2 linked regions of the Homo sapiens genome follow. The protein of the gene in region 1 interacts with the protein of each later gene in a pairwise test. Each region holds a gene or a part of one and is shown in the gene's direction. Other genes may lie near its edges.

Region 1 (3,746 bases):
CTGTCCCTGCTGCGTGGTGTGGGGTTCCCGTGGCTGGCATTTGCTGCTGTGTGGAGTCCTCAAACCCAGCGCTCGCCCTGCCTGCGTTCAGAGGACAGAGGCACCACCGGGAACCCACCGGATCCTCACTCAGGCTTTGGAAAGGCCGAGTGATGTTTTGTGTTTGTGAATTCCACACATACTGTAGGAGTATCAAGAACACGTAACTGTTAAAAAAGGAAAAGTAAAATTACTGAACAGGAAAGAAAGAATAAAGCAGGTCCTTTGTTTTTTTGGCTGAGGAAAGCAGCCTGCCCTGGAACGCTGTAGAATGTCTCCCTTTTTGTGAAGCACAGCATGGAGCTCTCGGAACTGAAGATGGGAATCTAACCCTGCCCTCAGCTTTCAACAGCTCGAAGTTTGTCTTTTTAATGAAACTAATTTGTGTATTTATACTTAAGGGTTTTCAAGTCCTTAAACTTGATAAGAAAACTTAAGTCGTTTTCTATCAGGACAAGTTTTTAAGTAGTCACTGGTGGGAGAGCGTGCCTCTGTGGACTGTGCCCAAGGCTGGCGGTCCCACGAAGTCCCAGAGCCCGCGAGCCGGTGCCCAAGGCCATGTCTGTGATTTGCAGGAGGTTCAGGTGACAGGAAGGCCTGCTCTGTTTTTCTCACTTCAATTTTGGACTTTTTTTTTTTTTTTTTTTTTTTTGAGACAGTCTCGCTCTGTCGCCCAGGCTGGAGTGCAGTGGCGTGATCTCGGCTCACTGCAACCTCTGCCTCAAGGGTTCCAGCGATTTTCCTGCCTCACCTCCCCAGTGGCCGGAACTACAGGTGCTTGCCACCACTTCTGGCTCATTTTTGTATTTTTAGTAGAGATGTGGTTTCTCCATGTTGGACTGGCTGCTCTCGAACTCCTGACCTCAGGTGATCCCCCCGCTTCAGCCTCCCAAAGTGCTGGGATTACAGGCGGGAGCCACCGCGCCCGGCAATAGTGGAGGCTTGAAGAACACCGGAAAGTGGTTTCCTTGTACCGGACCCGCCCCTCCCCCACCATCCCGGCAGCCCCAGGGCGGGTGAGGGCGACTGCAGTGTGGTCACCTCAGGCTTTCCGTCCCTAGCTCATAAAGGCCCAGTGGCAGCAGTTGCTTTAAAGGAGCTCCGTTACTCCCTTTGTTCTGGGGTCTTGGTAAAGTTTGCTTTGCTGAAGCGGAGGAACCGCAGGCGGTGCTGACCCCCCCACCCCGCCCCCATCCCACGGGGTCCCTTGGGTCCCGGGGCACGAGGCTCCTCTGAGGGACACGGCCTCCAAGAGCTGGCTCTGCCCTGGCCGCCCTCCACAGTCACGGCGGCTCCCCGCATGCTCCTCGGGACGGAGATCTCCTGGCTTCCTCCCGCTTCCTTTCCTCTGCGTTTTCCGCAGAGCCGCCTCCCTGCTTTGGAAGCAGGTACTCAGCGGCCTCTGCAGCCGCCAACGGCACACAGGCCTCTCTCTGTTCGTTCTTTCTTTCCGTAACCGTAGCTTGAGGCACATTTCCTAAATATGCAGCATGGAACGCTTGGCGGTTCTGAACGCGCATCTCGTGCTGCTCCTGTAGGGCGGTTAGGACGCGCTCCTCTGGCGAGGAAGGTGGCAGCCTCCACTGTGCACGGGTCACAGGCGAGTGTGGTGTGGTGTGGTTGTGGGTGGGGTGTGGACTGGATCTGCAGGCTTGTCCCTCTCTCGTGGAGAGCTGTCGGGGTCCAGGCAGTGCTCAGTGGTGAGAGCCACAGCACATTTGAAAGTCCACATGTGTTTGCCCCACTGTGGTCCAGGACATGTGTGAGCCACACTCAGTGGACTTGCACCTGTGACATGTTGGTCAGCGTGGCGGCCGTCAGCTGGGTGTGGAATGCATCTGATTGGAGCCTGGCACCCGGCCTACCATGATTGTGATTCTCTGGGGCGAGTCCTGAGTGTGGGCAGGGCCTCAGGCCCCCAAGAGGGCTGTGAGCAGGCACCTTCCTGTGAGGCACGATGCCACCATGTGAAGTTGTGTGGGTCTTTGGAGAGTTCTGGCAGGTTGAGGGCCTGTGCGTGTGGGACCCAGGCCTGCCCTGCCTGCTGCCGGCCATGTTCCCTCTGCCCAGTCATGTTGACAATTGTGGCCAAATTCAACATCGGGCCTGTTTCCTGCACCCACGTTGGCACACACTGAGTTCAAGACAGTTTCTGCAGAAATGAATCCAGAGGTGTTTATTTCTGGCACGTTGGATCAGACGTTCAGAGGGTGGGCGTCTTTCTCCATGCACTTCAGCTGGATCAGTCAGTGTCAGCCATTGACTTTAGCAACAGGGAAATGAAAGACTTTCCTCAATAAGAAATGGGACTTTCTCACGCTGGATGGCACAGAGCTGGCAAACATGAGGCCAGTCCACACCAAGGCTTTGCCTGCAGAAAGGCTGCACTGTGGCCAGCGGGGGAAGCGGAGGAGACACCTGTGGACACCCTCCCCACAGGTGGGCACACCTTTGCGCAGGCCCAGTGTGCGTTCTGAAGGAGAGCCCAGGGTGGGGTTCCGGGACTGAGGTGCAGCCGTGTCCAGGGTGGGCTTCTAGCTCTGCCGCTGGGCGGAACTGGGGTAGGTCCCAGGGTGGGGTTCCAGGACTGAGGTGCAGCCGTGCCCAGGGTGGGCTTCTAGCTCTGCCGCTGGGCAGAACTGGGGTAGTCCCAGGGTGGGCTTTTAGCTCTGCCGCTGGGCGGAACTCGGGTAGGTGGGAGTCCTCACTTCTCTGCAGGGTGGTGAAGCTCTCTGGGTAGTGTGAGCAGTTCTCAACGTGCACCTTGGAAAGCGCCCGTTTTGAGGTTTAGCTGTGGCCAAGATAGATGACTTCATTTTGTTGCTTTTTGTTCTTAACATGGGGAGATATTTAGAAAACATGTTTGGCTCTTGCTGGGGAAGCAGTGCTGTTCCGTACAGTGTTTTACAAGCCGTGTTTCCTTAGGATTGAAAGAAGGTGGCAAGAGGAAGAAGCAGAAGCAGAGAGAGGAGTCGAAGAAGAAGAAGTCGACCAAAGGCAATCACTAGACCGGACTTGAGGCACGCGGTGCACCCCCAGACGCTGGCGCTCCACCGTGCTCGGCATGCGGTCGTGCACACGCGCTAGGTAGCAGCGTCGGTCAGGACTGTCTCGAGGCCACACTCGCTCGGCAGGATTATGCGATCACGGATCAGTCAGAGCAGGGTCAGGAGACGGGGCTGACGGCACGGGTGGCGGGGACAGACGTTTGGGACTTGGCCGCGACTCTCTGCTTCTCTCCAGCTCTCAATCTGCTGCATTTTCCTCTAGTGCTTCCGGATCCTCTTCATTCTTTTCGGCTACTCAACCACTCCGCATGCTGCTGGAATATTTCTGGCTTTAGAAGTACAGGAGGGCGCAGATGGCTAACTGAGTAACATTCATGAAATGAGGCTTTCTGTGGCGGCGTAGTGTTTGGAATTAGAAGGTAATTCAGTAGAGTGTAACTTAGAGAATATTGCAAGTGACACATTGAATCCTGCCCGTCAGGGCACCTTTTCCTCAGAGCAATCCGGCCACACGAATAGAAGGCTGTCGTGAATCACATCAGATGTAAAATCATTCCTTCTGTTTACTCTTTTAATTTTCATCCTTTGCAGGTAGTGCAAATTCAACTTCAAATATGGTGTAGGTTTTGCTAGATTCCATATTTTTTTCTTGGATTTTTGCTAATTATTTTTAGCAAAAAATTTTTGCTCAGTGGCACT
Region 2 (3,746 bases), on another chromosome or scaffold:
TATAATCAAGATACATATAATAAGGAAAGTACTAATAAATAAAAGCTATACTATTGGTTTCCCAAAACGCAATGTTTTTGAACATCAGTGGAAAATGTGGATGCTTATTACGAAATCTTCAGTTCTGAATTTTGATTATGAAAAGTAACCACATTTGATCATCTTTTCAATGACTTTCACGTGATCCACGCTTTATGCTTTAGGGAAGCAAGAAAATGTTAGGTTATATAATTCAATTTTACTTAATAACGCATAATAAAATCTGGATTTAGAAAACAGAATAGGGGTTTATTTGCAGTACTGAAGGTTCGCTGTCTTTACAATAAAATTGACTTAAACATTCAAGTATTTGAACATCCTAGTTCCTTTAAATTAAGAATACTCAAGAGTTACCCGGTGGCTCACGCCTGTAATCCCAGCACTTTGGGAGGCCGAGGCGAGCGGAACACTTGAGATCAGGAGTTCGAGACCAGCCTGGACAGCATGGTGAAACCCTGTCTCTATTAAAAATACAAAACATTAGTCGGGCGTGGTGTCGCGCACCTGTAATCCCAGCTACTCGGGAGGCTGAGATAGGAGAATTGCTTGAACCTGGGAGCCGGAGGTTGCAGTGAGCCGATAGGCACTGCACTCCAGCCTGGGCAACAGAGCAAGGCTCTGTCAAAGAAAGAAAGAAAGCAAAGGAAGGAAGGAAAGGTAAGAAAAGAAAATAAAGAAATATACTCTTTAATATAAATTCACCTCATACTAGCAACTTAGGTATTGAACACCTGCAATATACGTAATCAAACTTTCCAATAATGAGAACATCTTGCACATCCACAGGTATTTCCAAGAATTGAGGCACAACGGAATAACATAAACCAAAAAGTCCACAAGGTGCATTGTCTGTCACACATACATTGTAAATTCAGTTCAAATGTTCATTCCCAATATTTCAACAACAACAACAAAATTTTTTAATAAAGTCATTCGTCAAAAAAGAGGCTGGCGCCTCCAAAATCAAGCTCCATCTAACTCCTGAGTCAAATAATGATATGAAGTACCCGAGACGGACCAATTTTTTTTTTGTCAATATTTAATCTGAGGCTTTGGAAGTGGAAGAAATCTTAAAATAGCCACTCAGTCTTGTTTCCAGCCTTCAGGCAGCTGAAATATAAACCCCAGGAACACAGACCCTCCCTTCAGCGAAAAGTGTATGTGTGTATGTTTGTGTTTAAAGGCCTATAGCAGTCAGAGATAGGATCACTGCCGTTTTAGCAGTTTAAAAAAAAAAAATTCTACTAGAGAGGAAAGAATGACACAATTTTCTTCGTCACAGGAAAGTGGGCCTGGGGTATCCCAGCCACCTTCGCAGACGCTAAGTTATGGAAAGCAGCCAAAATTCTGGTATCAGGATGAGGCGTCCCCATGGGTTCTATGGAAACGAGAGACGCGGGGGGCCTAGCGCCTTCCAGGCGGCGGGCCGAGCGGCAGAGCTGCGCAAGCAGAAGCGGGGGAAGTGGCTCAGCCCAGTACTGCAGAGGGGCGCTCGGTGGCAGTCCCCGCAGCGGCACGGGCGAAGCGTCGCGGGGTCTGCAGCTGCAGCCCACCAACTCCGGCGCCGAGCGCGAAGTCGGGAGAGCTGGAACGAACTGCAGCTGGAGAAAGCGCGAGAGCCAGACACCGCTGCCGCTCACCCCAGCCGCTTCCTTCCTAGCCTCACAGCCGGGAGGCAGAAACTTCGGAGGTACCGCCCGGCGAAGAAACATCCCCACAGAGACAGAATACACTGTGTCTTCCTAGCTGAGCCCCTTTACCTTCCCGGTGTCTGGGATGCTTCCTTCGGTGGCAGCGGCGGCAGGGGCGACGACTGCCGCTGCAGCACTCAACTGCTTCACGAATCCGGGCTCTGGGAAACAATTTCCCGCCGCGCGCTAGGCAGCCCCGGAAGCGATAGTACCATTTCCGGGTGGTTGTCAGTGACGCTCCGGAGCCGTCGCCAGGGTGGTAATACCTGGTGCAGAGCTTGAGTCTGGCCAGCGGGTCAGGCTCTTGCTAGATCAGCACCGGAGGTGGAAGACTGGTAAGTGATTTTACTGGGTTTTCTCCTGCGCCTGATATTAATGGCTGGCCGGGGCTCTGTGCAGCATTATGGCCAGCCCGAGAAGTGAGTGGGCGAGGGTGGAACCAGAAGGAGTCCCCATCAAACCCCGTGGCGCTTGACACCCAGTGCAGCTGGAGAAGGCCCTGGGATCCCGGCTTACCGTCTTATCCACTCGCAAAATCTGTCTCCGACTTGGAACTCGACCTCGGGTCACCAAGTGTCCCTGGGCGAGGCCGAAGACACCGTGTACCGTGACTCGGCGTTGTGCCGAGTTTCTCTACCAATGATCAACGAGTTTCCTATCTCCCATTGGCAGCGTTTGGCCACTCTTGATTCCTGAGTACTGTTTCCGTAGTTCTGGGGTGCCGTGCCTGGAAGGCAGGAGGTTGGCTGAAGAAGACATCTTTTACAAACATTTAGGAAGTGAGATGGGGAGGTTCCTTCCTGATTTAGAATTAATTGAAGGTTCCTCCCGCCATTTGAATTGGATGAGAAGAACGGTCTTTGTTTTCATGGCTGAGACATAAGAGAACAAGCTTGTAATTTCATGCTTGGGCATTAGATGCATTTTTGGAAAGCAGTGATCAGTAAGTATGTGTGCTTTCAGAAAGGAATGCTTGCGTTCTGCTCCAGGCTTTGTCGATAATGAAGGATTCAGGAGAATTTTGGATGGAGGTCTGAGGTAGCCAGAATAGTTGTAAAGAGAAATTGCTTCCGACAAAGGGATAATGTGAGGAAAGGTGCTCATTTAAGATTTGAAAGATGTGATGTAGTGAACCTTGGCGACTTCTCTTAAGTAATGCAATTTCTTAGGTAACTAGTTTTCACTTGCCACCTTATATTTAGATAATTACCTCCCCACCAACCCCCGTAAAAGGCAGCTGACTGTTATTTTTTCAAAACAGTCAGTTCCCGAAAGAGTTGTAGGTACTATTGCATTTTTTTTATGGGTATGCTCCTCATACCCATAAAAACATTTTCTTTATCGGAGCATACCGATAAAGAAAAATGCAATATGTTCAATTCAAGGCCCCTGTTAACACCAGGCCAGTGTCTTCTTAACCTTTTGAGAGTAATGCAACAAACCATATTTAGGACAGCACATTGATTTTCTGGCCTTGTTGGTTAATAATTCAACAAACTTATAATCGCCCCATTAATCCCAATCTTGACATTTTGTTGAATCTTGTATTTTTTCTTTATTTCTCCAGTTGAAAGTATTATAAATTACTTCAGGGATATTATGTATTATATCTGTACAGCAACTAGTTTTTAGAGGCAGTGATTTCTCTCTTTGAATTGCTCTTGAATGTAGCCAATCATTAATACTTACCCCAAGTAGATACTGTCTGCCAGGCACTTTACATTTATTATTTTATTTAATGTTTAATAAAAAAAGAAAATCACAAAAATTGTATTATTTCTATTTTGCAAAACATTTTATACTGAGACCCAAAGAGGTTGTGATTTTCCATAAATTATACAATTAAATGGCACAATTAAAATTTGAATCCAGTCTACCTGACTCTAAATTTTGGCTCTTTTTACTGTGCTCTATACCTTTATAAGTAAACATAACAGTATCATTATTTTCACTCCAGGTAAAAATGGATAGATAGTATGTCACATTTAGAAATCAAGTGGATAGCAAAACTTGAGG

Evidence for each region. Proteins that work in one complex are often made in the same cells at the same time.
Region 2: the proteins of DNAJB6 (region 1) and KIAA0825 interact in binary tests that used the Homo sapiens proteins (3 or more experiments, as listed by UniProt).

The regions. Positions count from the first base shown.
Region 1 is NC_000007.14:157,413,052-157,416,797, forward strand, and holds part of DNAJB6 (dnaJ homolog subfamily B member 6), read left to right. Parts: exon of another isoform or gene 1-1,636; intron 1,637-2,964; coding exon 2,965-3,047; 3' UTR 3,048-3,746. UniProt on the Homo sapiens protein: Has a stimulatory effect on the ATPase activity of HSP70 in a dose-dependent and time-dependent manner and hence acts as a co-chaperone of HSP70. Plays an indispensable role in the organization of KRT8/KRT18 filaments.
Region 2 is NC_000005.10:94,616,819-94,620,564, reverse strand, and holds the start of KIAA0825 (uncharacterized protein KIAA0825), read left to right. Parts: upstream 1-1,960; 5' UTR 1,961-2,065; intron 2,066-2,246; exon of another isoform or gene 2,247-2,334; intron 2,335-2,439; exon of another isoform or gene 2,440-2,673; intron 2,674-3,746.